Linked DNA regions of Homo sapiens. The protein of the gene in region 1 purifies or fractionates together with the protein of each later gene. This does not show direct contact. Each region holds a gene or a part of one and is shown in the gene's direction. Other genes may lie near its edges.

Region 1 (5,177 bases):
AGCTCACAAAAGCAGGATATTGTAGGCAGAATTAGATCTCCTTTATACCTTTGACAGGTGCTGTTAGGCAGAGAGAAACCTGATTTCATCAAGGAAAACCTAGCATCGTCAAGTTGAATTCATATCAGATGTTTTTTTATCTTCAAGTTAATCATTCACTTTCTGTTACTACAGTAGAACATAAATTAGGTATAGTAGATAAAATGCAATTAGGAAATGCCGGTGGAAATTATGACCCAAGACAACATTTTTTCTTGCTCTAGTCTAGTCTAACTAGCCTGTTACCAACACCAGGGACCAAGAAGGTGCTGAATAAATGTAGTATTCTGAGTTGAAGATGGAAAGGGATCAGTATCAGCCTAAGCAGGAACGCAGCATACTGGGGCTACAAGCCTCTGATGTTGAAAGAACTCCTTATCCACAAGCTACTTCTATACCTATTCTAAGCAGGTCAGTTGAGCTTTCTGCATCTCTCTAGCTACATATAAACAAAAATAAAGTCTATTGAAATGATTTAGCATGAAAGGCAAGGATTATATATAATATTTTTCTAGTTTATTATAAGGTAGCATAAGAGGTTTGCAATAAATTAAAACAGTATAGAAGTGTATAAAAGAAAAAAATGAGCTTTACCCATTCTGCCCTTTTTCTAAATTCCCTTCCTGGTGATTTTCTACAAATTTAATGTGCACATGTATACACACGTATATATATTTTGTTTTCTACAAAATTGGGATCACAGTATTCTTACTGCTCTGTAATGGTTTTTTTTCCTACTTAAATATCTTGTTTTTTCTTTGTTTTGTTTTGTTTTTTAGAGACAGGATCTTGCTCTGTCACCCAGGCTAGAGTACAGTAGTGTCATCATAGCTCACTGCAGCCTCGAACTCCTGTCTGAAATGATTCTCCTGCCTCAACCTCCCAAGTATCTAAACTATAGGCATGTGCCACAATGTTTGGCAATAAAAAAATTTTTTTAGAGACAAGGTCTCATCCAGGATGGTCTTGAACTCACCACAAGCGACTCTCCAACCTTAGCCTCCCAAATTGCTGGGATTACAAGCATGAGTCACCATGCCTGGCCCATATCTTGTGTTTTTCAATGGTAGTATTGTAGTCATATCTCATTCATTTTAAAGCTGCATAGTATTCCATTGTGTGGGTCTGTAATAACTTATTTAACCATTTCCTGAATGGCCATTTAGGTTTTTATTTTACCCAGCATTGCATTGTTTTTCCCTGTAATATGTTTGCACCCTAGTTCAAGTTTGTCTATAGTGGAAAGTTCTAGCAGTGAAAGTAAATGGACTTGTAAAGTTGTATTTCAGTGCATCTTTACTTGTAGTAGACAACTGTCCTGAAGTCTTGAGGTTTCAGATAGTAACTAGTTATAATTTAGTAAACTTCTATTTAGATAATCCATGTGAATCATCCTATTTATATTCTCAACATATTTTTTACTCGAGGTCTTGGACAAAGTTAGGCATTAATCACCTTGGTGTTCTTGTTTTCTCTCTCTCTCTCTTCCTTCCTTCCTTCCTTTCTTCCTTCCTTCCTTCCTTCCTTCCTTCCTTCCTTCCTTCCTTCCTTTTTTTCTTTCTTTCTCTCTCTCTTTCTTTCTTTTCTTTCTTTTCTTTCTTTTTCTTTCTTTCTTGACACAGTCTCACTCTGTCACCCAGGCACAATCTTGCCTCACTGCAACCTCTGCCCCCAGGTTCAAGCAATTCTCGTGGCTTAGTCTCCTGAGTAGCTGGGATTACAGGCGTGTGCCTCCATGCTCAGCTAATTTTTTTGTATTTTTAGTAGAGGTGGGGTTTCACCATGATGCCCAGGCTGGTCTTGAAGTCCTGAATACAAGCGATCCACCGGCCTTGGCCTCCCAAAGTGTTGGGATTACAGGCATGAGCCACTGCACCCAGCCTAGGTAAAGTTTTTCATCCCTGCCCTATAGAGCCTATGCCCTACTCTGGGAACTAGAGCAAAAAATGTGTATGTTGAAGGCAGAAATATCAAAGAAAGAAGTGGGTGGAGGAAGTGGTGGCTTGTCCTGGGGTGCTTATTTCTCTCCTTTCCATCTCACTGATAAGCTCAGCTATTTCTCCTAAGTGACAGAAACCTAACTGAGTGTTGGATTAGTCTAGAAGTATATACAGTCATGTGTCACTTAACACAGGGAAATCTTCTGAGAAATACATCCTTAAGTGATTTCATCATAGTGTGAACATCATAGAGTGGTAGGCAAACCTAGATGGTATAGCCTACTATATACATGGTTTATATGGTCAATAGCCTATTGCTTCTAGGCTCCAAACCTGTACGGGAGGTTACTATGCTGAAGGCTGCAGGAAATAGTAACACAAAGGTAAATATCTGTGGTCTAAACATATCTAAACATACAAAAGATATAATAAAAATATGGTATTTTTATTATAAAATTATATAAAAACATACAAAAGATATAATAAAAATAAAAGATATAGTAAAAATATGGTATAAAATATAAAAAATGGTACACCTGTATAGAGCACTGTATAGGACACAGGAGCTTACGGGACTGGAAGTTGCTCTGGGTGAGTTAGTGAGGGAGTGATAAGTGAATGTGAAGGCCTAAGACATTATTGTTTACTATTGTAGAATTTATAAACACTGTACACACAGGCTAAACTAAATTTATAAAAAAATAAAGTAATTGCAGCTATGACATTACAGTGGCTACAGCACCACTGGATGATAAGAATGTTTAACTTCCACTTTAATCTTATGAGGCCACTGCCATACATGTGGTCTATCATTGACCAAAACATTGTTATGGGGTGTGTGACTGTGTTTCAGTTATTTTTCCTGCTGGAAGAAGAGGGCCCTCCTGGAAACAAAAGGAGAAAGGAGTAAGCTTCTCCTAACAGTATAACGTATGTTTTTGTTGCACATTATATATTTTGATAAATTAAATTCCATTTTAAAGTTAGGCAAGGCTTACAAGGAACTTATGGTGAATCTTTCCAATTTTTGCTTTATAAAACCCTCAGATTGCACACGAGAATTTCCAAAAGTTGTTACCATTTTTAGTTTACTAAATTATAACCTAAACTTTAAACATAGTTTTTAAAATTGTCTTATTTTGTACAAGCTCTATGGAAAACAGTATGGAGATTTCTCAAAGAATTAAAAATAGAATTGCCATTCAATTCAGCAAACCCACTACTGGGTGTTTACAAAGGAAAATAAATCACTATATGAAGAAGACACCTGCTCTAGTATGTTTATCACAGCACTATTCATAGTAGCAAGTTAAGAATCAACCTAAGTGTCCATCAGTGGATGATTGGATAAAGAAAATATGTTATATATACCATGGAATACTACTCAGCCATGAAAAAGAATGAAATCTTGTCTTTTGCAGGAACATGGATAGAACTGGAGGCCTTTATCCTAACTAAAATAATTCAGAAACAAGGTCAAATGGTGCATGTTCTCACTTATAAGTGGGAGCTAAAGAGTGGGTACACATGGACATACAGAGTAGAATAACAGACATTGGAGACTCTAAAAGGTGGGAGGGTAGAAGCAGGGGAGTGAGGGTTGAAAAATTACCTGTTGGGTACAGTGGCCACTATTCAGGTGATGGATACACTAAAAGCCCCATGTAACAAAACTACACTTGTCCCCCCTACATCTATAAAGATAAGAAATAAAATAAAGTGCCTTATTTTCATATGCAGTAGCTAGCTTATCTTATACAACTAAAATAGTTCAGGCCAAATGGAGAGCCTTTGTACTCTGTGCCTTTGTGAACTTTATTTATTCCACCTGTATATGCTGGACTGTGTGTTAGCCTAACAAATAGAGCAATTACAGGGTCCCTACCTCCCAGGGGATGACAGTGAGTGGAGCAGACTGTTAAATTAACAGGTAATTATGATACAGTGAAATGCTGTATTAGGGTGAAAACAGCCTATAACTGTATCACCTCACATAGAATTTAACACTGAAAAACCACTGCAATCCAGCCTGGGCAACACAGTGAGACCTCATCTTTAAAATATATATGTAAAAGAACCACTTAACAGTTCATAGGTAGTCTTTGCTTTTGCATGGCATTGTGGCATTGTAACAATGATCATGCAAGCTGAAACCATTCAAAGCAAAAATAGTCAATGGGAAAAAGTACAATTATTTCATGACCTTCAAAAATTTTTGTCAAAGTGGCACCCAAACGGGACTTTCAGGGACAAACAGAGACCTGAAGGGACCTAAAGAGGCCTGCAGGGACAAATAGAGATAAGTAGGGATAAATAGAAATAGAGGTAGAGTTAAATAGAGACAAATAGAGAGTTTTGGGCAAAAGTCATCTTAACTTGCAGGGCGTTACTGTAGCCCCAGGAGTTGTTGATTTTGATTGTGAAGAGGAAATTCCAGTAGTGGTAATGTCACAAGAACTTTGGGTTTTTGAACCAGGAGAATATATTGCACAACTATTGCTTGTTCCCTGTAAGTTGCACCCTTCTCCACGAAGGGAGAAGCGAGGGAATCAAGGATTTGAAAGTACAACTAGGAGAGAGATTTATCTATCACAACCCATAACATTTAATGGACTCACCTGTACAGTACAAATTGAAGGCTTAATGATTTTTTTTCTTTGCTATACTGTTGCACGAGAAGGATGAGCTTCAATTTGCTTTCCATGTGCCTTCTGTTAATCAGAGAGAGCCTGCCTCTCCTTATCAATGAGAAGTTTACCCCGTGGTAATTAACCAAAGAGGCAGAAGCTGAGTTACAGCTTGTGGAGCAGATGCTTTGGCAACGGCATGCCTCCTGGCCACAGCCACAAAAGCCTTTGCTTCTGTTTTGGTAGATTTACTGACGTGGGGATAAGGGTACGCTTGCGTTTTTGCAGGAGATGAACAAACTGTGTGGGTGCCCTCAAGGTGTGTGCGACCACAGAACGGGAGACTAGAGCGACCCATGGATCCCAACCATGGGCCCGGTTCCCCCAGTATGAGCTGAATGCGAAGACGGAATGAACCACCAAGGCTGCACATTTTGCAATTACCTGTCTCAATTAATTCAAAAACAAAAAGGGAGAGATGTTGCAGGCTGAAAGAGTGAGGGTCGTGATCAACTCAGTATACCGCTGGAGGGTATATGAGCAAACAGCAAACTGTTCTCATAAATGCAGA
Region 2 (5,177 bases), on another chromosome or scaffold:
GTCTATAAGTTGGGAGTAATATTAATACTATCATTTTTCCAAGGATTGATGTGAACATTAATGAGGTGAAATGACAGATGTGTATCATGGTTCCTAATAAACATCCAAAATATAGTACTTACTATTGTCATTATTATTACTTGTTTGAAGCTAAAGACCTCACAATAGAATCCCATCCAGCCCACCAGACAGAGCTCTGAGTTTTCTAGTTTGGAAGAGCTATTAAATAACAACGTCTAGTGTCAATTCTATACTTGTTATGGTCAAGTACTGGGCTCAGCATTTTACATTCATTGTCTCTTTAAGTTCTAGCAATGTGAAGCAGGAACTATGATTATATTGACTACATAAATGAAGAAATTGAGGCTCAGATACATTAAGTAATTCTCCCAGGGTCACACAGCTAGAACTGGCAAAGCCTGGGATTGATCCACGATCTTCCAGCATTGAAGAATCATAAATGTAAATAACTGCAAGGCCTTTTCCTCAGAAGAGCTCCTGGTGCTTGCACCAACCCACTAGCACTTGTTCTCTACAGGGGAACATCTGTGGGCCTGGGAATCACTGCACGTCGCAAGAGATGTTGCTTCTGATGAATTATTGTTCCTGTCAGTGGTGTGAAGGCAAAAAAAAAAAAATGGTTGGAAATTATGGCTTGCTAGCAAATGATGTCAGACATTCTGGTTAATAGAGTAGGAAGGGTCTTACAGATGGAGAAATGAAGACCCACGGACATCTCCTGATGCACAAACTTCTCACAAGTGACCTGGAGGGGCTTGGTTCTAATCTTGTCCCTGGACTGCACCAACTGGGGCACTGACATTCTATGTGGTCCTCTATTACCATTGGGCTGGTCCTGTCTTCCAGGAACCAGGGCCTCTCCCACTGCAACCAGAATGGCCTCAGATTCTAGGGTTAGCATTGACCCAGTAACTACATAAAAAAGTGGAATAGATTAAATAGAACCTCAGACAAATCACAGAAATGGGGCTAAACCTAGCCAGCCTGAGCTTCAGATTTAAAAGTTCTCTTTCTTTATACCAGGGAAATCAAAACCTGGATGTTGTCTTCTCTTTTTCTTCTGGCTTTGACATAGTTAACAAGCCCTAGGATGTCTGCACTGGAAAAATGGGAGATCTCATTTAGTCCAAACTCCTCCTCTGTTAAGAGACCTGGAATAAAGCCACTATTAATCAACTATTAGTTTGGTGACTATTAGTCAAAGCCAGGACCAGAGCCAGAAGCTGGACTTTCCTTTCCCCTGGCCAAACCTTGTGTGCACACTGTTTCTTCCCCTCCCCACCCTGTCAGGCCATTGATGTGATGGCTCCCCATTCACACCTTCATTTCTCCTCTTTAACGTGACCAGGGCTGTTCTGAACCTCCTTACTTTGGCCTCCTCTGCCCAGAACAGGTCAGGCCCCTCTGCATCCATCAACCAGGTGTGCTCTCCTGACCATTCTTTGTCAGATGGGCACCTTCACTAACTCAGCTCTTTGGATTGCTTTGCAGATTATGTTTGAGACTTTCAATGTCCCAGCCATGTATGTGGCTATCCAGGCGGTGCTGTCTCTCTATGCCTCTGGACGCACAACTGGTAGGTGGCTGGGCGGGACAGCAAGCTGGTTGGAGCGCACTGCCAGAGATGGGATTGAATGGTCGTTAACACGTGGGGGTGACGGACTGGAGTTGAGTTAGAATGGACACGGCTGAACCCAGCCCTAAAAGATCTTCTTCTAGTGTTCAAAATAAGCCCTTGATCTCATATTTCTAGCAGAACTTTTTTCTACTGTTTTCCTCTTCCTGTTCTTTACTTTTTTTCATCTTCCCCGAGCCCTGTCCCACCTCACCTCTCCTATCACATGCCCTGTTTTCTCTTTTTAAATAAGAGGCTCGGAAATTCCCTCTCCCCCAAGGCTTCCCTCTACTTGTCCAGCAAGTAACCACATGCCAGCTGCCATGGTGACTTATCACGCCCAATTGTCTCCCAGGCATCGTGCTGGACTCTGGAGATGGTGTCACCCACAATGTCCCCATCTATGAGGGCTATGCCTTGCCCCATGCCATCATGCGTCTGGATCTGGCTGGCCGAGATCTCACTGACTACCTCATGAAGATCCTGACTGAGCGTGGCTATTCCTTCGTTACTACTGGTGAGGCCTGTGGGAGATAAGGGGGAGAGGGGAGCAGTGTGTTGCTCAGTAACTTCCAGGACCATCCTCACTATCCAAGGAGATGATGGGATGAAGTTTTGCAAATGGCAAGGCCTGGCTCTAATGCACAGAGCAAAGCACATCTTTCTTTGCTGTGTGAAGTTGCAAAATGATTACACTATTTCCTTGAGGAGAACAGTTATAGACACCCAGTGTTATGCATTAGTCAGTGTTGTATAATTGATCTTTTTTTAATCCCCTCCATTAGCAAATAGAAGAAGATTGTGCAGAGACTGAAGATGGCATGGTGTGGTGATTGGCAGGAGACATTGTGATAGGACTCGAGTCCCAACTCTGCTACTCAGTAGCTCTGTGAGCTTGGACAAGTTAACCAACCATAGTCTCTTTATTTGTAAAATGGGGATAATAATAGACCCTATATCACATGATTGTTATCAGTATTAAATGGAAGAACGCATGTGGAATACTTGACATAGAGTAAGCATTCAATAATTGTTAGCTATTAACAGTGATACTTATTAATAGCTAACACAGTGACATATGTGTATTCAGATTCTAAGCCGGTGCACCCAGTCCTCCCTTCACAAGAGGAAAGTGTCAGCATTGCCAGAAACATTGTATGTCCTCAGTGCTGGTGGCTCCAGCTACCTGTCCTCCCCTTAGCAATTTGGTATTGTCCAAACATTTAGGTTTCTGAACATGCCTGAGGCTTATTTTATGCTCCAAATTTGAGGCTTGAGACTTGAACCCTGCCAATGTTAAAGTCTCCACTTGCAATATGAAGTTGAATAATTGCATTCCTCCTCTGCTCCCTACAAAGAATCCCAAGATGCCTCTAAAAGGTTCCTAGAGCCTCAGATATAATTAATAGCCTAGAACTTCAGAGAGCAGAAGTCTGAAAGGTCTCTCCCTGCCCACTTCTTCCGTATCTCGTTCAGTATGCACCGCTGAAACCTTCTGGACTAGGCCTGGTCCTGAGACAGCACCACCTCTTTCCTGGAGGGTGAGAAATGTGCCAAAGGTTTAACCTGCTATCCACTGGCCCAGGCAACAGGATCTCAGACTTTTTGAAAATTGTGAGGCCCCTGAGGAGCTGATTCAGCATAAGATATCCTGGTTAACTGAAAATACAATATAACAAACTTTCTGTCATAAAATAATTATAACACAGAGTAGTTATCCTGCCCACCCACCCCAAAAAATGTTATGGTACAAAAGGATCCGCTACTGTGTGCCTTTCTCTAGCTAGCTCATTTTATTCTTGTTATGCATTTCCCAGACAATGCATGCTGAGGGCCTACTATGCATGAGACACTGTCCTAGGAACAGAGGTGGTTCCCTGGTGGCCCTACTACGTCATTATCATTGTGGATTTTGGATTGCAGAATATTGAACTGACACATTTTTTGATGGCACATGTCTTGAGGGAGAGACTGCAGTAGGGCAGGTGAATCTTTGCCACCTGTGCAGACCCTAATGTTTGCCACAATGTTTGTATCTGGTTGACAGCTGAGCGTGAGATTGTCCGGGACATCAAGGAGAAACTGTGTTATGTAGCTCTGGACTTTGAAAATGAGATGGCCACTGCCGCATCCTCATCCTCCCTTGAGAAGAGTTACGAGTTGCCTGATGGGCAAGTGATCACCATCGGAAATGAACGTTTCCGCTGCCCAGAGACCCTGTTCCAGCCATCCTTCATCGGTAGGCAACAAACGCCCTTTTCCTGGGAAGGGGAGTCATTGTCTTCTTCCATATCAAGCCAGCCTCCAGAACATGGAGACAAGTGACGGTTGCCCCAAGACCAAAAGCATTTCTAAACCAGAAAAAGGGAAAGTGCCACATTTTCAAGGCGAGAAGACATAATGAGGCCAGGAAAAAGGTTTTCTTCCTAAGAAAACACTATCTATGTTGCAGTTAAGCCCAAAGCATTCATGGTGTATGATGAAAGAATTAAATAATGCCTGTGCTTTGGAGACAGCGGAAAGGGTAGCAAGGGTGTGCTGAAGGCTGAGAATTTGGGAATGCTGGGGGAGAGAAAAATAGAAGAGCACTCAAAGTGAGTCTGTTCCTACATTCACATTGTCTTGGAGAGACAGGTTTGCATAGTTGTTTACAGAGGCAGGCTCTGAGAGGGGTGAGCCTGGGTTTCAGTCTTAGTTCTCTTGATCTTGGGAAAGTCACTTAACCTCCCAACTAGTCTCCTCATGTATAAAGCGGAGACTGTAATATTACTTATGTCCTAGGATGGCTGTGAGAATTACAGGAGATAGATAAAGAGCACTTAGCCCACTGCCTGGCAAAAGCAAGCATTCAATAATTATCAGATATCACTAGTAATTAATAATCAGGTAGTGCTATTGTTAACGTTATCATTACATCACAGCACTGCAGAAGATGAAAGGGCACCTAGAGGTTTTTTGAAAACACCTGCGTCAGAAATTAACAAAAGTCCAGACCCCCACCCCCACCCAAAAAAAATGTTAGCAAGATTGGAAAAATGAGCCTTTTCCAACAGGATAAAAAATAGAGTAAGTTTCCCTGATAATCCAGCCCCATTAGCTTTGGGGGCTGGGGCAGATGCAACGTAGCTGTTAAATGGAGACCTGGGAGAGCTCTGAAGAGTTGTTGCAACATTGGCTCAGCGTGGAAGCTTTGCAGGGAATTGGAAGGCTTCATCCCTTATTTAAACCACATGGAGTGAGTAGTGAGTCTATTAAAAAATCAGTGATACCTGTTGTAGCCCACACCTCAGGATGCTGCAGCAGGCCTTCCTCATTAGAAGGCAGGCAGGAAGACATAGAGCATAACAAGACCCTTTTGTCTCTCAGACAGGTGGTTCCTAGATTATTATGTCTTCCCAGCCTCAGTCCACTGCAAGATCATCCAGATGTTCAAGTCTGGTCTTCCATGTCTAGCCTGGGTTTTACTCTCCACTTAAGGACCATGGCCTGTGTCTCTTTTCCAGGGATGGAGTCTGCTGGCATCCATGAAACCACCTACAAC
Region 3 (5,177 bases), on another chromosome or scaffold:
GCTGGGAGAACCTGAGGGAACAGCCACCGATCGCTGGTGAGTTCAGATACCTCTTTCCGAATCCCGTGAAAGGAGTATGGACAGTTTTCCCAGCCTCCTCCATCCACGTTCTCGAACCAACTTACTTTATTCTTTTTTTTTTTTTTTTTTATCATTCTTGGGTGTTTCTTGCAGAGGGGGATTTGGCAGGGTCATAGGACAATAGTGGAGGGAAGGTCAGCACATAAGCAAGTGAACAAAGGTCTCTGGTTTTCCTAGGCAGAGGACCCTGCGGCCTTCCGCAGTGTTTGTGTCCCTGGGTACTTGAGATTAGGGAGTGGTGATGACTCTTAAAGAGCATGCTGCCTTCAAGCATCTGTTTAACAAAGCACATCTTGCACCGCCCTTAATCCATTTAACCCTGAGTGAACACAGCACATGTTTCAGAGAGCACAGGGTTGGGGGTAAGGTCATAGATCAACAGGATCCCAAGGCAGAAGAATTTTTCTTAGTACAGAACAAAATGAAAAGTCTCCCATGTCTACTTCTTTCTACACAGACACAGCAACCATCGGATTTCTCAATCTTTTCCCCACCTTTCCCCCTTTTCTATTCCACAAAACCGCCATTGTCATCATGGCCCGTTCTCAATGAGCTATTGGGTACACCTCCCAGACGGGGTGGTGGCCAGGCAGAGGGGCTCCTCACTTCCCAGTAGGGGCGGCCGGGCAGAGGCGCCCCTCACCTTCTGGACGGGGCGGCTGGCCGGGCGGGGGGCTGACCCCCACCTCCCTCCCGGACGGGGCGGCTGGCCGGGCAGGGGGCTGACCCCCACCTCCCTCCCGGACGGGGCGGCTGGCCGGGCGGGGGGCTGACCCCCACCTCCCTCCTGGACGGGGCGGCTGGCCGGGCGGGGGGCTGACCCCCCGCCTCCCTCCCGGACGGGGCGGCTGGCCAGGCGGGGGGCTGACCCGCACCTCCCTCCCGGACGGGGCGGCTGGCCGGGCGGGGGGCTGACCCCCACCTCCCTCCCGGACGGGGTGGCTGCCGGGCGGAGACGCTCCTCACTTCCCAGACGGGGCGGCTGCCGGGCAGAGGGTCTCCTCACTTCTCAGACGGGGCGGCCGGGCAGAGACGCTCCTCACCTCCCAGACGGGGTCGCGGCCAGGCAGAGGCGCTCCTCACATCCCAGACGGGGCGGCGGGGCAGAGGCGCTCCTCACATCTCAGACGATGGGTGGTCGGGCAGAGACGCTCCTCACTTCCTCGATGGGATGGCGGCTGGGAAGAGGCGCTCCTCACTTCCTAGATGGGATGGCGGCCGGGCAGAGACGCTCCTCACTTTCCAGACTGGGCAGCCAGGCAGAGGGGCTCCTCACATCCCAGACGATGGGCGGCCAGGCAGAGACGCTCCTCACTTCCCAGATGGGGTGGCGGCCAGGCAGAGGCTGCAATCTCGGCACTTTGGGAGGCCAAGGCAGGCGGCTGGGAGGTGGAGGTTGTAGCGAGCCGAGATCACGCCACTGCACTCCAGCCTGGGCACCATTGAGCACTGAGTGAACGAGACTCCGTCTGCAATCCCGGCACCTCGGGAGGCCGAGGCTGGCGGATCACTCGCGGTTAGGAGCTGGAGACCAGCCCGGCCAACACAGCGAAACCCCGTCTCCACCAAAAAAATACGAAAACCAGTCAGGCATGGCGGCGCGTGCCTGCAATTGCAGGCACTCGGCAGGCTGAAGCAGGAGAATCAGGCAGGGAGGTTGCAGGGAGCCGAGATGGCAGCAGTACAGTCCAGCTTCGGCTCGGCATCAGAGGGAGACCGTGGAAAGAGAGGGGGAGAGAGACCGTAGGGAGAGGGAGAGGGAGAGGGAGAGGGCTTACTTTATTCTTTAAGATTTCCCCTTGGGTTATTACTCCTGTGAATTTATGGTTGAAATGTAGTCAAGGACACAGTGGTTGTGTGCCTGTACTCAGGAAGCTGAGGTGGGAGGATTGCTTGGGCCCAGGAGGTCAAGTCTAGCCCGAGGAACACAGTAAGACCTTGTCTTTAAAAAACCAAAAGCGCATGCATGTGTGCGTGCACACACACACACGCACACACATATATACACACATACACATATGTACACACGCATACATACACATACATGTGCACATACATGTATATACACACGTATACATATGTAAACATGTAGATACATGCGTACACATGTATACACACACATAGACATACATGTATACACACATACACATACACATGTATATACATACACACATACACGTATATATACATATCAGCTATATTTGGGAGGAAGGGAGTTTTCAGACTTTTAAAATATATGTATATAGGTAAATATATATATATTTTTCAAGAATCCTAACTATCCTATATGACGTTCATAACTTCATCTTAAAGTTCATAATTTTACCTTGTTCCCTTCTTAATTTTGAGCCTGCTACTATCCCATCTGTATGCAAAGATATGTTTGGGAAAGGGAGAGCTAGAAGGATGTAGCTAGTACTTTCACACTCCTGCCCAAATGTCCTTCTATAATGCAAATTGGAGTTTGTAGGTTCTCAACAGGAGAATGGAGTTCCCTCACAGGAACTGTCATTGTCATGGGCTAGGAGTGGGGAGTAGCATGGGGAGGGTGATGGCAGACTAATGTGTAAAATTAGTTCTTACCCGTTCCAGGTATGATGAATATCATCCTGAGGAGGATCTGCAGCACACGGCCAGTGACTTTGTGGCCAAAGTGGATGACCCCAAATTGGCTAATTCTGAGGTGAGCCACATCCCTCTGCTGCTTTGCCCAGCAGAGCTGGTTTTGGAAGGCAAGAATCTTGCTTTTCTTACCCCAGTTTAGTTTAAAGAGAAGGAGAAGAGATCTTAGGTCTCTTCGTTCCTGTCTATAGAACAGAGACTTAAGATCCTGCCTCTTCCTTCTAGTGTTCATTCCCTCATCTCCTTGCCTACTAACTCTTTTTTCTGATGCCTTTGCAAGTCTTTAGAGCCAGAAATCCCTTTCTTTTTGCTCTCTACCTCTTTTAGGGTCTTTAGCATATCTTGTCTGCAGCTAGAGATGGTCAGGGGAGGGGTGAGTACAGGGTCCTCTTGGGCATGGTTGAGAGTGCACACCTGGAAGTCCTTTCCCAAGTGGCCTGTGTGTGTCTCTGTGCCCCAGTTCCTGAAATTCGTGCGGCAGATTGGCGAAGGGCAGGTGTCCCTGGAGTCCGGTGCAGGGTCGGGCCGAGCTCAGGCAGAACAGTGGGCAGCAGAGTTTATACAGCAGCAGGTAGGACATTGTCACTTTCCAGTCCCACTTCAGAGCCAGCTGATGCCCCAGGCCATGGGTTCAGTGGTCAGTGGTCCCAGATGGGGAAGGATAAGACCAGCTTGTCTTGATAGCATCCAGGTCCCAAGTGGGTGGGAAAGAGATTCTGAGAATGATTTTCTCAGAAGTACCCAGGTTGGTGGTGGTTAGTGGGTATTTAGTGTGCGTCTGATGGATAGAAAGTTGGTGGTAGTGGTACTGACCATCCTTTTTTGTCGCAGGGTACATCAGATGCCTGGGTTGACCAGTTCACAAGACCAGTAAACACATCTGCCCTTGATATGGAGTTTGAACGAGCCAAGTCAGCTATAGAGGTGAGAGCAGATAGTGCAGGAGCAGACACCCCAAAAGAAAACACTCCTTGGAGTGAGTGGGTGTATGAACATCAAAGATGATGCAAATTGTATTTCATAGTGGACCTGGATCATCTGTGTCAGAGTTGCTTGGGGATGGGGTGGGTGCTGTTGAAAAATGCAGATTTCTGGGCCAGGCATGGTGGCTCATGCCTGTAATCTCAGCACTTTGGGAGCCCGAGGTGGGTGGATCACCTGAGGTTAGGAGTTCGAGACCAGTCTGAACAACATGGAGAAACCCCATGTCTCTACTAAAAATACAAAATTAGCGTGGTGTGTTGGCGCATGCCTGTAATCCCAGCTACTTGGGAGGCTGAGGCAGGAGAAATGTTTGAAACTGGGAGGTGGAGGTTGCAACGAGATGAGATCACGCCATTGCACTCTAGCCTGGGCAACGAGAGTGAAACTCTGTCTCAAACAAAAAACTAAACTAAACTATGCACTGCACTGCACTGCACTGCACTGCACTGCACTGCACTACATTACATTTCTGGCCATCACCCCAGACTACTAAATCAGTATCTGGGGATAGCATCTGGCCATTTGCATTTTAAAAAACTTATTCAGATGATTCTTAAACATATTGAAATTCAAGAACTGCTGCCTTAGAGAATCCCAGCAGAGCTGAGTGTGGGGTGGGGTGGTCATGATGGATCTCCTTTTTCTATCTGCTTTCCCTTCCTTACAGTCTGATGTCGATTTCTGGGACAAGTTGCAGGCAGAGTTGGAGGAGATGGCAAAACGGGATGCTGAGGCCCACCCCTGGCTTTCTGACTATGATGACCTTACGTCAGCTACCTATGATAAGGTGAGGTAAAAACTCTTAGTTTTTCAGGTTCCAGAACTTCCTTCTTTTTAACGTCTTTCCTTTAATCCTGAATTTGAAGGGTGCTTTTAAGTATTTTCTTGAGTCCCTTTCCACGAAAAGAAGTCTGAATAATTCCCTTGCCCTTCCTCTTCAGTGATTGAGTATAAACTTTATTCTTGGGATATAGATGTTAATGAGACTATCTTTGTCAATAACGACAGTCCAGTACATAACACCTGTGAAGGAGGTTTGCACATGCTTGCTGCATTAAAAGCACAGAGGAAGTAGCTCTGCTTGGAGGTCAGATTGGGAGCTTTTTGAGAAGACTGCTGACTCCTTTGGTGGGGAGTGTTAGTGGACAGACTATCCCTTTGCCTCCACATCTTAATATCTGTTTACTTTTTAAACTCACATATTCATTTTAAGTTCTTATCTTTTATAGGTAGTAGCCACTTGCCCTAATTTAGGGTTTTCAAAGAATTTATATTAGATAACTTAAATATTAGGGAAATTTCTTAGTAGTATGAAAGATGATTGCATTTTGCCTATAGCATGTGCTGTTGACTTAGAAGCATATGTTACTTCTGGGGTCTTACTGAAAAACAAATCTACCTGTGGGTTGTAGGATATTTGGGGATGTGTTTAATAACTGAGCTCCTGAGTTGAAACATGAAGAGGGGAAAGAATCACTTGGTTTTGAAAA
Region 4 (5,177 bases), on another chromosome or scaffold:
CTCACGCCTGTAATCCCAGCATTTAGGGAGGCCGAGGTGTGGGAGGATCGCTTGGGCCCCAGAGACCTACCCCGTCTCTATAAAAAAATATGTATTATTTTTTGAGACAGGGTCTCACTTTGTTGCCCAGGCTGGAGTGCAATGGTGTGATCTCGGCTCGCTGCCGAGATCCTCCTGTGCTCAACGGATCCTCCCACCTCAGCCGCCGAGTATCTGGGACCACGGGCACTCTCCAGCACGCCCGGCAAATTTTTGTATTTTTTGTAGAGATGGGGTCTCCTTATGTTGCCCAGATTGATTTTCAAACTTTTGTGCTCAAGCGATTCTCACGCCTCTGCCTCCCAAAGTGCTGGGATTACAGGCGTGAGCCATCGTGCCCGGCCACTTTTTTGTAAACTGCCAAGTTTTCTGTTAAGGGTAGCGTTATAAAGCTTTATTCAGGTAAAAAATGGAATTTATTTAAGGGAAAAGACTGAGTAAATAGAAAGTTACTTCTCCCACGTGGCCAGAACCTTGGAAAGCCTGGAGGCAAATGAGAGCCCGGTGGGGGTAGATGCCTGCAGGGGCTGCAGAAATGTGACAGGCCCTTTCCTTGGAGGTGACTTCTCTAATTCCCTCTCCCCCACTGAGCTCTGGTTCTCTGCTCTTCGGGAGAACCACATTAGTTGACTCTTACTAGGTCCTAGAAGTTTTACTCCATTTTCTAATTACATGCTCAGGACTACTCCAGAAGGGCTTGCTATTAGCCCCATGTTTCAGATGAGAAAATGGAGGTTGGGAGAAGTCATGTGTCCAGGGACACAATTGGGACTTGGGACCCAGTCCCAACTGGGTCCCAAGTTGGACCGGGACACCCCTCCCCTGCCAGGGCCCTTGCCCTGTCTTAGTTGCCCTGAGCTACGGTTCTTGTGGAGGGCAACAGGGTGGGCAGAGGGAGAACTGAGCTCAGCCAAGACCGCCCTGGCTTATTTTACAGCAAATCCCAGACCAATAAGGTCTTTATTAATAAATAAATCCGCAGTATTTCTAAGAACTTTTAAAACCTAACCATGATACTGCTGTCATGCCTAAAAATACATTCCAAAATATCAAGTATCCAGGGTTTAAGTGTTTCTGTATTAAATTTTTTTTTTTTTCCGAGACGGAATCTTGCTCTTGTCACCCAGGCTGGAGTGCAGTGGCACAATCTCAGCTCACTGCAAACTCCATCTCCCGGGTTAATGCCATTCTCCTGCCTCAGCCTCCCGAGTTGCTGGGACTACAGGCGGCCGCCACCATGCCCGGCTAATTTTTTGTATTTTTAGTAGAGGCGGGGTTTCATCATGTTAGCAGGGATGGTCTCGATCTCCTGACCTCGTGATCCGCCGGCCTCGGCCTCCCAAAGTGCTGGGATTACAGGCGTGAGCCACCGCGCCCGGCATGTATTAAATATTTTAAACAGCTGGTTGGTTTGAGTCAGGATCCAAAGTCACACCTTATATTTTGTAGATAACTTTTTAAATTCAGAGCAGCACTGTCCAATAGAAATATAATGTATGCTATAAATGTAATCTTATATTCTTTAGTGGTAAAAGGAAACATGATTCATTGTATTAATAATTTAACCTAATATATATCCACTACTATTTTGCATGTAATTTTAAAACACTTTTTCATTTCTCCATGATCTTGACTAAAATAATTAAAAACAAAATCCTGTGAACTTGTCAAAATCCAGTGTGAGTTTTACACTTACACATTTCAAGCGTGGTGAATGGATGCTGTGTAAGTGATCATCTAGAGGTTCCCCTTTCTTAAAAGGCTCCATCCCCCGTTATATTTGTCGGGCTGTCTTGCAGCATTCCTTCCCCACACTTCGCATTTTTCTGATTGTTTTTCCGTGGTGGTCTTTGAGTGTCTGTTCTTTATATTTCCTGTAAAGTGATAGTTACCTCTAGAGGTAGTTTTTGGTTTTGGTTTTATTTTTGTTTTTGAGACGGAGTTTTGGTTTTGTTGCCCAGGCTGGAGTGCAATGGTGTGATCTTGTCTCACTGCCTCCTGGGTTCAAGCAATTCTCTTGCCTCAGCCTCCTGAGTAACTGGGATTACAGGGGTATTTTTAGTAGAGACGGAGTATCAACTTGTTGGTCAGGCTGGTCTCAACCTCCTGACCTCAGGTGATCCACCCGCCTCAGCCTCCCAAAGTGCTGGGATTACTGGTGTGAGCCACCGCACCCAGTCTGGAGGTAGTTTTGATTCAGATGAGAGTTTTTGGAAAGAAAACTTACTTGAGGTGCTGTGCTCCAACCGGAGGCACATATTGGTTGGTATCTTCTCTTTTGTCATGTTACAGCAGCTATTAATGATCATTATGTAGATCCATTATTTTCTTAAATGGTTTTCAAATTAGTGATATTTTAATAATCGATTCCTTTTCATTTATTAGCAGGAATACTTTTTCATGTGATCGCTCTAAGATGTACTTTTGTTTTTGTTTTCCTTTTTTTTTTTTTTTATAGACGGATTCTCACTCTGTCACCCAGGCTGGAGTGCAGTGGCAGGATCCAGGCTCACTGCAGCCTCCGCCTCCTGGGTTCAGGCGATTCTCAGGCTCGTGAGCAGCTGGGATTACAGGTGTGCAGCACCACCACGCCCATCTAATAGTAGAGATGGTGGAGTGGCAGGGGGTGGGGGGTTTCACCATGTTGGCCAGGCTGGTCTCAAACTCCTGACCTCAAGTGATCCACCTGCCTTGGCCTCCCAAAGTGCTGGGATTACAGGCGTGAGTCACCCACCACGCCCAGCCCTCCACATTTTTTTTTTTCGAGAAAGGGTTTCACTTTGATGCCCACACTGGAGTGCCCTGGTGTGGACAGAGCTCACTGCAGCCTCAACCTCCTGGGCTCAGGCAATCCTGCCTCATCCCCCCAAGTAGCTGGGATTACAGGTGTGTGCCACATGCCCAGCTATTTTTTTTTGTATTTTTTGTAGAGAAGGGGTTTTGCCATGTCGCCCAGGGTGGTCTCCTGAGCTCAAGTGATCTGCCCACCTCGGCCTCCCAAAGTGCTGGGATTACAGGTGTGAGCCACTATATATGGCCTCAGTTCTTCCTTGACATAAATTCAGCTTAGCATTTCTCATAAAACATTAAAAAAGTACCTCTATACTTTGTCTCCATTGATACATCAGTATGAGAAATTGCAGTGATTGAGTTTGAAATGATCAACTACACTTGCATTCCTGAAATCCAACTTGGTCATAATATCGCTTTATATATTGCTGGATTAGGTTGACTGATACTTGGTTTGGACTTTTGCATCTGAGTTCTTGAGTGAAATTAGCCTGTGATACTTGATTAATTGTAAAACTCTTTTGGAAATGAAAAAATCAATTCCAAGTTCATTGTAGATGTAAGTGTAAAAATTTAGAGAAGAACATCAACGCTTTGTAAGTTCAGATAACTATATGGGCTGGGGCTAGGAAAAAGATCTCTTGAAAATGACACAGGCTGGGCGGGGTGGTTCACACCTTTAATCCCAGCAGGGCCAAGGCAGGCGGATTGCTTGAGGCCAGGAGTCCAAGACCAGCCTGGCCAATGTGGCGAAACCCCATCTCTACTAAAAATACAAAAATTTGCCAGGTGTGGTGGTGTGCATCTGTAATCCCAGGCTGAGGCAGGAGAATTGCTTGAACTCAGGAGGTGGAGGTTGCAGTGAACCGAGAGTGGAATGATGGTTTGAGCTCAGGAGTTCAAGATAAGCCTGGGCAAGATGGCAAGACCCTATCTTTTCAAAAACAGAATTTTTAATTAGCCAGGTATGATAGCGAACACTTGTAAAGACATAGAGGATGCAGTGAGTTGTGATTGCAGTACTGCATACCACCCTGAGCAAGAAAGCAAGACCCCGTTTAAAAAAAAAAAGCCATCATAATTAAGAAAAGGCATGACAGATTAAGACTCCTATTAGATTTATCCTAACGGTATGCCTCCTGTTAGACAAAATGCTTCACCTAATACAAATACAGATACTCTTACTTACTGTTATATCCCGATAAATCCATCATAAGTTATTTGATTAGAATAGTGCCATCTAATAGAATTATGATGTTTATGACAAATACATATCTTTTCTAATTTAAGTTGGTGTTAGATACCATATACGATCCTCTTAAAGTACATAGAATTCAGAAGTTAGTTTTCTTGTGATGTTTTTGTCTGGTTTGGTAACACGTTGTATTAGTATGCTAGGGCTGCCATGCAAAGTAATACAGACTAGTAACAAATTTTCTCACGGTTATGGAGGCTAGAAGTCTTAAGATGAGGGTGTTGATAGGGTTGGTTTCTTTTCAGGCAGGAGAAATAATGTGAATAGTAGGAATTCCAGAAGGAGAAAAAGACACAGATGGAGGCAGCAAGAGAAGCGATAAAGGATTAGAAGTGAATTTTCCTGGCTTAAGATCCCTGTAGTTCCCATTAGGATATTTTGAAAAGACACAGCACAGGCGTGTGTTGGTAAAACTCCTAAAGTATAGAGGAAACTGCTTTGGAAAAAGTATGTCCTCCAAATCTCTTATCTTCTCCCCCATTGTTTCTGTTTTGATGTTTATTCTACTTCGTTTTCCTTTCTTTGAATTCATTACTAACTTTTAAATTTAAAACTCAGTTTTAGTTCCAGAAAGTTTTTTTTTTTAAGTTTTGTAATGGAGTGGTATCTGAAGTTGCTCTTTTTTTCCTGTTAAAATCATTATGGTTTTTGTCTAGCACTTCTTGTTCCCTGAAACCTGAGGTGTGGTATGTTATTTCTGGGTGCCGGAGCCCCTCTTCTGTAAATTGTCATGTTCCTTTCCTCCTTCCATCTCTCTGTTCTGCACAATTCCCCCAAGGCAGAATGCAGTGGTCCCCTGGGCAGCACAGCTCAGGGCCAGCAGTCTCAGCTCAGGGCCTGCTGCTTGGAACCTGACTAAGGTGTCATGTTTCCATGGAGGCTTCAGGAAGAATTCCCATCCCAAGGAATGTACCTTCCTCAGGGGGCTGAGGATACCCCACAGGCCTCCTTTCTCTCCAGCTCCAGGGTTTGACTATGCACCTATTTAGGGGCTGCTTGCTCAAGGGAGAGAGGTACAGGAGGTGGTCTGGGAAAAACAAAATTGATCTTCCTATCAATTGTATTTTTGTTTAGCGGAATCTATACACACCCA

The links.
Region 2: the proteins of PECR (region 1) and ACTA2 purify together in Homo sapiens (affinity purification with mass spectrometry, with the first as the bait; one large-scale study listed by BioGRID). This does not show direct contact.
Region 3: the proteins of PECR (region 1) and PEX5 purify together in Homo sapiens (affinity purification with mass spectrometry; 3 studies listed by BioGRID, with this or other methods). This does not show direct contact.
Region 4: the proteins of PECR (region 1) and HNRNPF purify together in Homo sapiens (affinity purification with mass spectrometry; 2 studies listed by BioGRID and IntAct, with this or other methods). This does not show direct contact.

The regions. Positions count from the first base shown.
Region 1 is NC_000002.12:216,070,907-216,076,083, reverse strand, and holds part of PECR (peroxisomal trans-2-enoyl-CoA reductase), read left to right. Parts: intron 1-5,177. UniProt on the Homo sapiens protein: Participates in chain elongation of fatty acids. Catalyzes the reduction of trans-2-enoyl-CoAs of varying chain lengths from 6:1 to 16:1, having maximum activity with 10:1 CoA. Has no 2,4-dienoyl-CoA reductase activity.
Region 2 is NC_000010.11:88,938,205-88,943,381, reverse strand, and holds part of ACTA2 (actin, aortic smooth muscle), read left to right. Parts: intron 1-1,512; coding exon 1,513-1,597; intron 1,598-1,991; coding exon 1,992-2,153; intron 2,154-3,407; exon of another isoform or gene 3,408-3,683; coding exon 3,684-3,875; exon of another isoform or gene 3,876-3,987; intron 3,988-4,905; exon of another isoform or gene 4,906-5,139; coding exon 5,140-5,177. UniProt on the Homo sapiens protein: Actins are highly conserved proteins that are involved in various types of cell motility and are ubiquitously expressed in all eukaryotic cells.
Region 3 is NC_000012.12:7,199,078-7,204,254, forward strand, and holds part of PEX5 (peroxisomal biogenesis factor 5), read left to right. Parts: coding exon 1-36; intron 37-2,673; coding exon 2,674-2,764; intron 2,765-3,163; coding exon 3,164-3,274; intron 3,275-3,534; coding exon 3,535-3,627; intron 3,628-4,354; coding exon 4,355-4,474; intron 4,475-5,177.
Region 4 is NC_000010.11:43,401,618-43,406,794, reverse strand, and holds part of HNRNPF (heterogeneous nuclear ribonucleoprotein F), read left to right. Parts: intron 1-5,177.